Linked DNA regions of Homo sapiens. Changing the gene in region 1 together with any one later gene gives a genetic interaction. Each region holds a gene or a part of one and is shown in the gene's direction. Other genes may lie near its edges.

What was found.
Region 2: changes in SSBP1 (region 1) and TIMM23B together harm fitness more than expected from each alone (negative genetic interaction), as found in Homo sapiens cells (one large-scale study listed by BioGRID).

What each region holds. Positions count from the first base shown.
Region 1 is NC_000007.14:141,736,735-141,741,314, forward strand, and holds the start of SSBP1 (single-stranded DNA-binding protein, mitochondrial precursor), read left to right. Parts: upstream 1-1,623; 5' UTR 1,624-1,676; exon of another isoform or gene 1,677-1,859; intron 1,860-1,872; exon of another isoform or gene 1,873-2,264; intron 2,265-2,389; 5' UTR 2,390-2,432; coding exon 2,433-2,456; intron 2,457-4,580.
Region 2 is NC_000010.11:49,969,308-49,973,120, forward strand, and holds part of TIMM23B (mitochondrial import inner membrane translocase subunit Tim23B), read left to right. Parts: intron 1-734; exon of another isoform or gene 735-1,151; intron 1,152-3,704; coding exon 3,705-3,757; 3' UTR 3,758-3,813. UniProt on the Homo sapiens protein: May participate in the translocation of transit peptide-containing proteins across the mitochondrial inner membrane. the PAM complex.

The sequences.
Region 1 (4,580 bases):
ACTGTAAAACAGCCTCAGGCAGGTCCTTCAGGAGGGATTCCAGAAGAAGACACTGTTATAGGAGATGACAGCTCCCTGTGTGTCACTGCTTCTGAAAACCTTCCAGTGGGACAAGATGTGGAAGTGGAAGGCTGAGATTGATCATAATGACCCTGTGTAGGCCTAGGCTAATGTGTGTGTTTATGTCTTAGTTTTTTTAAAAAATGGCTAAAAAGTTAAAAAAAAAAAGAAAAAAAGCAAAGGTAGAAAAAAGCTTGTAGAATAAGGATATAAGAAAAATATTTTTGTACAGTGGTACAGTGTGTGTTTTAAGCTAATTGTTATTACAAAACAGTTAAAACGTAAAAAAATTTGGAAGATTTATAAAGTTATAGTGAGTGAAAGTTTATTAAAGGAAGAAAAGTATTTTTTATAAACTGAGTGTAGCCTAAGTGTACAGTGTTTATGAAGTGTTTAGTGGGTACAATAATGTCCTAGACCTTCATGTTGGGCCACCACTCACTCATTTACTCACCCACAGCAACTTCCAGTTCCGCAAGCTCCATTCATGGTAAGCGCCCCATACAGGTGTGCCATTTTTATCTTTTATACCGCATTTGTACTGTACCTTTTCCATGTTTACATATGTTTAGACACACAGATACTTACCATGAATTACAATGGTCTGCGGTATTCAGTACAGCCCCATGCTGTCAGGTTTGCAGCCTGGAAGCAGCAGGCCACACCACAGAGCCGAGGTGTGTCCAGGCTCCACCATCTAGGTCGTCAAAGTACATTCTGTGGTGTTCGTACAGCAACAAAATCGCCTAATGACGCAATCCTCAGACCTTACCCTGTTGTTAAGGTACACATGACTCTTATTTTGTTCCTCCCGGATTTCCTGCATTAATTTTTACTTTTTAAAATATTACATTAATATATTATTTGATTGCCAGTTTTTCTGGTGCTCCCTTAAATTGCACAGCCTGCCAGCCCTTCCCTGGCTCCCCTTTCTTTTTCTGCTTTTCTTAGTGCTTCAACAGACCTGGGACGTTCTTTTTCTTTCTTTTTTTTTTTAATTTTCTTCTTTTTTTCTTTTTCTTGTTTTGTTTTGTTTTGTTTTGAGATAGAGTTCGCTCTGTTGCCCAGGCTGGAATGCAGTGGTGCGTTCACGGCTCAATGCAGCAACGACCTCCAGGGCTCAGGCGATCCCCCGACCTCAGCCTCCGGAGAAGCTTGGACCACAGGCGCGCGCCACCACGCCCAGCTAATTATATATTTTTTGTAGAGACAGGTCTCACTATGTCGCCTAGGCTGGTCACAAATGTTGCTTTTTTTTCCCTCCAGGCAGAGCTAGTCTCTGTTTTGCCTACCTCGCCCCCTCCTGGGCCCAGTTAGAAACCTCATCACATAATTTCATTTCTTTCCAAACTTGAAACCTTCTAAACTTGAAACCTTCTAAACTTGAAACCTTCCAAACTCACCACTTGGCGGCGTTGATCCATCCGCCCGCGCACAAAGAGAAGATCGCGGAACTTCAGAGTTAAGGGGAGCCGTTTCCCGCAGCGCTAGCCGGCAGTATTTCCAAGGCGCAAGTTGCGGAGTTTCTGTTTCCTTTTTCCTCTGGCGAGCTTTGCGTTCCCTGTGCGCCGGAAGTGATCCCCTGCGTGGCTGGGCTGCTCGGGTTAGATCGTCAGGTGAGGGAGGAAGGGATAGCCAGCGCGAAGGAAGTGCTGGAGTCGTGTGTTTTGGCTGCGCGTGATCCTGCGTGGGTCGGGAGGTGTTTCTGTGTAGGTGTCTGGCCCTTTCATCAGTCGTGCGGAGGACCGCGTGATTTCCTTCCAGTTCTCCTCGGTTTTCAGGTGGTGGCGCCATCTTCGGTAAAGGGTGTCCACCTCTCCCTATGGTGTGGCTGGCTAGCCCGGGGGTCTCTACGCTGCTTGGTCTTTGTTAACGGAGATGAAGGCAGTAATTTTTCAGTAACAGGTTTCAGATATAAGTCCCTTGGTGATGCTAATATTTATGGAGGCCTTACTATGCATTAAGAACTTTTTTAGAAGTTTAGAAAATGGCAGTGAATAAAGCAGATACAAATCTCTGCTCTAAGGGAGCTTGCATAGTAATGAAATTTGAGAAGACAGTGGATTGGAAGTGGGATTAACTCAGAATCAAAATTTTGTCGATGGGTTGGAGGAAGAGGAAGTTATTTGGGACCAAAAAGACATACAGGTGTGAGTTTATTTGGGAGGGAGGAAGGAATCCTCATCAGATGTGCAGGAATGTTGGTACGTTGTGGTCACAAAATTGGAGTGCATAAAAATTATGAATATAGTTAGGAATTTAGGACTGGTGAGTTGTACTTTTGCCATAAGAGGTAATGTTTTTTTCTTATTTTGTTTTTTTCCTTCAGGAAAAGCCTAAAGATTAGACTGTAAGAAAAGAAAATAGAAGCCATGTTTCGAAGACCTGTATTACAGGTAGTCACTTGTCTGTATTAATACTGAGATGTATTACTATCAGCCACAGTGATCAGAAGACTTCTTTAGGCTTTTAACTACAGGGGCAAAAGACCTTTGAGCTCACCCACCCACCTCTATACTCATTTGATATGGAGGATTGGGGACGATTTTGCCAGTGTAAATTATGTTCACTAAAACAAAAAAAAAGTTCAGGTTTATTCACACGTAATAGGAATCATTAATTTTTAAAATGTGTGTGTGTTGCTTGAATTTAACCAGTGAGAGGACATTAAAGGTCTTTAGTGACCTAAAGACTGTAGGAATCATTGTTCCAACTTTTTTCTTAAGGCATGTAGTTGCTTTTTTGACCATCTACCTCCTGTGTTGCTAAACGTTCCTCTTCCCCCATCTTTCCACACTGAAGAGAGCATCTCAAGTCTCAGTGGTCACCAGAGATTTCACTATGTAGAAAATGCCTTCTCATTCCACTTAGTATGGGTCCTCACTTTTCCAGACACTAGCCCACCTTGAGCCAGCTTAGACTACCATTTTTCCTCACTTACCACATTCGGGCACCAGCTCCTGTAGATTCTTCTTTGGCTCTCCTACTCCCCATCCTCCTGTGAAGACCAATGAAGAACCAGTTCCTCCATGACTCTGTCATTTTCCCCACCTTAATCCTATATTCTTGGATCCCCACTTTAACCTGTATGTATCTTTAATCTATTTTTTTCTGTATTGAAATGTGAAACATGAAAAAGTTATTGCTTCTTAACACTAACGTTACAGTATTAAAATGTCTTTAAATAAGAGTTAAAAGTTTAATTTAAAAAATTATCCAAGTTAAATAATCCTTTCCTAATCTTCTCCAGTAGATTTTTGTGTGCCCCAAATGAGACATTGTTATTATAAATCTCTGTGTAAGATTTATGAGGTCTAGCTTGTCTGAGCACTCAAATGACATTTCCAGAATCATGACACAGGTTCTCATTAGCAGTTTGATTCTATAGTATGTTGTACTCATATCTTTATTTTCTTATCTGCCCTCTGCTCCTAAGTTTAGTGATAGGATTAGATAGCCAACAGCACCCTGGGGATTGGTGTTTATTTGATTGGTGGACTTCTGCTTTTTATATTAACAGTACTGCCACTTCAAAAATGTTTCTCTGATAGAATGGCTAGCTCTCTGAGCTCTGAATTCAGTGATGTGTACTCCCATCTTTACAGGAGCTCTTGAAATTAAGGAGGCAGCAGAGGGCTTCGGGAAAGCAGTAGCATTGGTGTCAAGGGCCCTGGGTCCTTGAGATCACTTGCCACATACTTCCTGCAGGAGCTTGGGCAGGTGATGCAGTCTCTCTGAGGTGTTTTCTCAGCCCTAAATGGGAATAATTTTACATAACTTGTAGATTTAGTTTTAGAATTGATAATAGATAAATCCCTTAGCTGATATTCAGTAATGATTGCTGCTATTATGTGGTAGTGACTACCTTTGCTGACAGTGATGTGACTTTGACTTGGACAGTCGAGTCTTTGTGTTTAATCAAAGAACCAAATTTATTAGACCTTTTTTGATGCACTAAAAACAGGAAATTTCCTATGAAATATTTATAAAAACTGTATTAGGCTAAGCTCACTACTGAAGCTGTTTAATTTTTGCAATAGCCTTGTGAAGTAGGTATTATGTATCATAATTTTTGCTTATTTTAAAATGAAACACTTTAGATTAGTCATATTAGGTATCCTAATTCCTTTTAAGGTCTGAAGGAGCAACCAGGGGAAGGCAGTTTCATAGACACAGGGAATCTGACTTTGGAATATGTTCCTGTTGCTGTGTCAGAAAGTCATTCATGTGATTAGTTTTAGAATGTATTGTTTTGTTGGAATGTAACCTATCTCTCGTTCTCTAAACCAGCAGACCCCAACCTTTTTGGCACTGATAACTGGTTTCATGGAAGACAATTTTTCCATGGAGGAGGGGGGTGCCGTGGGGATGGTTTCAAGATGAAACTGTTCCACCTCAGATCATCAGGCATTAGTTAGATTCTCATAAGGAGTGCACACCCTAGATCCCTCGCATGAGCGGTTTATAATGGGGTTCTGCTCCTGTGAGAATCTAATGCCACTGCTGATCTGACAGGAGGC
Region 2 (3,813 bases), on another chromosome or scaffold:
GCACCTGTAGTCCCACTTACTGGGAAGGCTGAGATGGGAGAATCACCTGAGCCCAGGAGGTCAAAGCTGCAGTGTGCCTTCATTGTGCCACTGCACTCTAGCCTGGGCGACAGAGTGAGACCCTGTGTCAAAAAAAAAAAAAAAAAAAAAGATAGATTCTAAGAGGCCAAGGCAGGCAAATGGACAGATTGCTTGAGCCCAGGAGTTGGAGACTAGCCTGGACAACATAGCTACTAAAAATACAAAAAATGAGCTAAGCATGGTGGTACATGCTACTCCCGAGGCTGAGGTGGGAAGATCACTTGAGCTTGGGGAGGTCAAGGCTGCAGTGAGCCGTGATCATGCCACTGCACTCCAGCCTAGGTGACCCTGTCTCAAAAAAAGAAAAATGTGGTATATACATAGAATATTATTCTGCCTTTAAAAAGAAAATTCTGGCTCTCCCTCTCACTCTCCCTCTCCCCACGGTCTCCCTCTCCCTCTCCCCACGGTCTCCCTCTCCCTCTCTTTCCATGGTCTCCCTCTGATGCCGAGCCGAAGCTGGACTGTACTGCTGCCATCTCGGCTCACTGCACCCTCCCTGCCTGATTCTCCTGCCTCAGCCTGCTGAGTGCCTGCGATTGCAGGTGCACGCCGCCACGCCTGACTGGTTTTTGTATTTTTTTTGGTGGAGACGGGGTTTCGCCATGTTGGCCGGGCTGGTCTCCAGCTCCTAACCGCGAGTGATCTGCCAGCCTCGGCCTCCCGAGGTGCCGGGATTGCAGATGGAGTCTCGTTCACTCAGTGCTCAATGTTGCCCAGGCTGGAGTGCAGTGGCGTGATCTCGGCTAGCTACAACCTCCACCTCCCAGCCGCCTGCCTTGGCCTCCCAAAGTGCCGAGATTGCAGCCTCTGCCCGGCTGCCACCCCGTCTGGGAAGTGAGGAGCGTCTCTGCCTGGCCGCCCATCGTCTGGGATGTGAGGAGCCCCTCTGCCCGGGCTGCCCAGTCTGGGAAGTGAGGAGCGCCTTTTCCCGGCTGCCATCCCGTCTAGGAAGTGAGGAGCGTCTCGGCCCGGCCACCCATCGTCTGAGATGAGGGGAGCGCCTCTGCCCCGCCGCCCCGTCTGGGATGTGAGGAGCGCCTCTGCCTGGCCGCGACCCCGTCTGGGAGGTGAGGAGCGTCTCTGCCCAGCCGCCCTGTCTGAGAAGTGAGGAGCCCCTCCGCCTGGCAGCTGCCCTGTCTGAGAAGTGAGGAGCCCCGCCGCCCAGCAGCTGCCCCTTCTGAGAAGTGAGGAGCCCCTCCGCCCGGCAGCCGCCCCGTCCGGGAGGTGGGGGGGCAGCCCCCGCCCGGCCAGCTGCCCCGTCCGGGAGGGAGGTGGGGGGCAGCCCCTGCCCCGCCAGCCACCCCATCCGGGAGGGAGGTGGGGGGCGCCTCTGCCCGGCTGCCGCCCCGTCTGGGAGGTGGGGGGCGCCTCTGCCCGGCCACCCCTTCTGGGAAGTGAGGAGCCCCTCTGCCCGGCCGCCACCCCATCTGGGAGGTGTACCCAACAGCTCATTGAGAATGGGCCATGATGACGATGGCGGTTTTGTTGAATAGAAAAGGGGGAAATGTGGGGAAAAGATAGAGAAATCGGATTGTTGCTGTGTCTGTGTGGAGGGAAGTAGACATAGGAGACTCCATTTCGTTCTGTACTAAGAAAAATTCTTCTGCCTTGGGATGCTGTTGATCTATGACCTTACCCCCAACCCGGTGCTCTCTGAAACATGTGCTGTGTCCACTCAGGGTTAAATGGATTAAGAGCGGTGCAAGATGTGCTTTGTTAAACAGATGCTTGAAGGCAGCATGCTCCTTGAGAGTCATCACCGCTCCCTAATCTCAAGTACCCAGGGACACAAAAACTGCGGAAGGCCGCAGGGTCCTCTGCCTAGGAAAACCAGAGACCCTTGTTCACATGTTTATCTGCTGACCTTCCCTCCACTATTGTCCTATGACCCTGCCAAATCCCCTTCTCCGAGAAACACCCAAGAATGATCAATAAATACTAAAAAAAAAAAAAAAAAATACTGCAAGAACATCTGCCCCAGAACTGCCTGTCCAACCTGGACTGACATCATCCTTGTTATTGATCTTTGTAGCCAAATATAATTATTTTAAAACAAACAAAAAAAGAGAATGTAAGCAGTATAAGACTTTAAAACACACAAATGAAATATACATGACTACATGCTTCAGTGAACTAAAACTTTCATCTGTGATCTTTATTTTGCAACATTCTGAAGTAACATTACAGTCTTTTCAGTGTGCTGTGTCATTTATATCCCTTACTTTATCCTAGGAATCCTGTATTGCCATTGAGCATATGCAAATTGAGACATGTGCATAGCTTCTCCCCGTTGAGCCCATCAGTGGGGAGGAGCTATGTACCGGGGACATTTGGCAAAGATTTTCATGAGTCTCTTGGATGTAACAGCTCCTTAAGAAAACCTCAGTTTACCTTCCCTATTTTTTACCATTTGTAAAACTAAGGCTCAGTGATGTAAAATATAACACATTCTGTGCTGTGGCATAACTGCAGCTTAGGTTTTTATATTCAAGACAAGCAGAGGTATAGCTGAAAAGGTATGAACACTTACTATGCTTCAAGATCCCTTCGTTGGTTTAGTTGTGGCATTTTAGAACAGCTGACTTGGGACTAAAGCATCTTTCTATCTGGGATCAGTATTTCTAAGTTGCCTTTAAGCTGAATAAACATTTGGTTTTTATATTTAATTGCTTCGATGTGAAACACTGCAATTTAAAAAATTACACATATGTAATATAGTATTTTACACTAAATAATAGTGACTGGCAGTCCACTGGCCGAAGAAGTATTATTTTTCAGATATTCTGCTCTGTCATCAGCTGTAGACACTGACAGGTATTTATCTGGAAAGGCTTGCTGTCAGGGGTTCACAGTGCTGCTTGTGGGTTATCTCCAGACCCTTTACATTCGGCACTTTAGGACAGCGTGAGTCACAGGTTGCACTAGAAGTTGCCTTTGAAATTAGACCTAAACTATGTGGAACTGGAACCCTTGTACACAAAGCTCTCTATCATCCAAATCCTGCTGAACTCTCTTAGGAAAGAACAGTTTTACAGATTCATTCTTTCCACACACAAGATTTCCCCACTGCCCAGTTACTCTCACCTTTTTATTTTCTTGACTGTTATGTTTTACTTGACTCTGGAATCTTACCTTGTACTCTCACATTTACATGGAAGTATAGCTTATTTCACCAATTATACTATCAAAAGCAGAAGTAGTTACTTACACCTGAAAATTTGTACTGAGAATGTAGCTGTGAATATGTTTAAGAAAGTATACTTAAAGCACAAATCCAAGGAAGTATATTTAAATCAAAGCAAGAAATCCCATTTCCAAATGGCAATAAAGCATGTGTTACATAGAATCAGTGCATGAAAGTGTTTTAGTAGCCCAGATTAGATTGTACCCTGGCGAATAAGCAAGAGTTCTTTTTCATTTTCATCTTGCAATTCAACTGGGTATTTGGGTTCTTTTTCTATTCACTCATGTCAGATAGAGACATGCATGTTGTAAATTATTTTGTCAGAATGAAAGCCTGGCAGATTAAATGCTTTCTTCTCTTCTTGCTTTACTTGATATCAATCTCTTGTTCATTTCTTGATAATATGTTTGGTTATTTTTGTTTTCATTGCTTTTAGTGTCAGAGATGGCTTTGGATTCCCCGTTCTGTGTGCTGCTGTCTGGCTCCTGAACCCAGCTGTAGAGGTGTGTGTCAATCCCAACTGGTGAAGTACTGAGAAGAAGCTA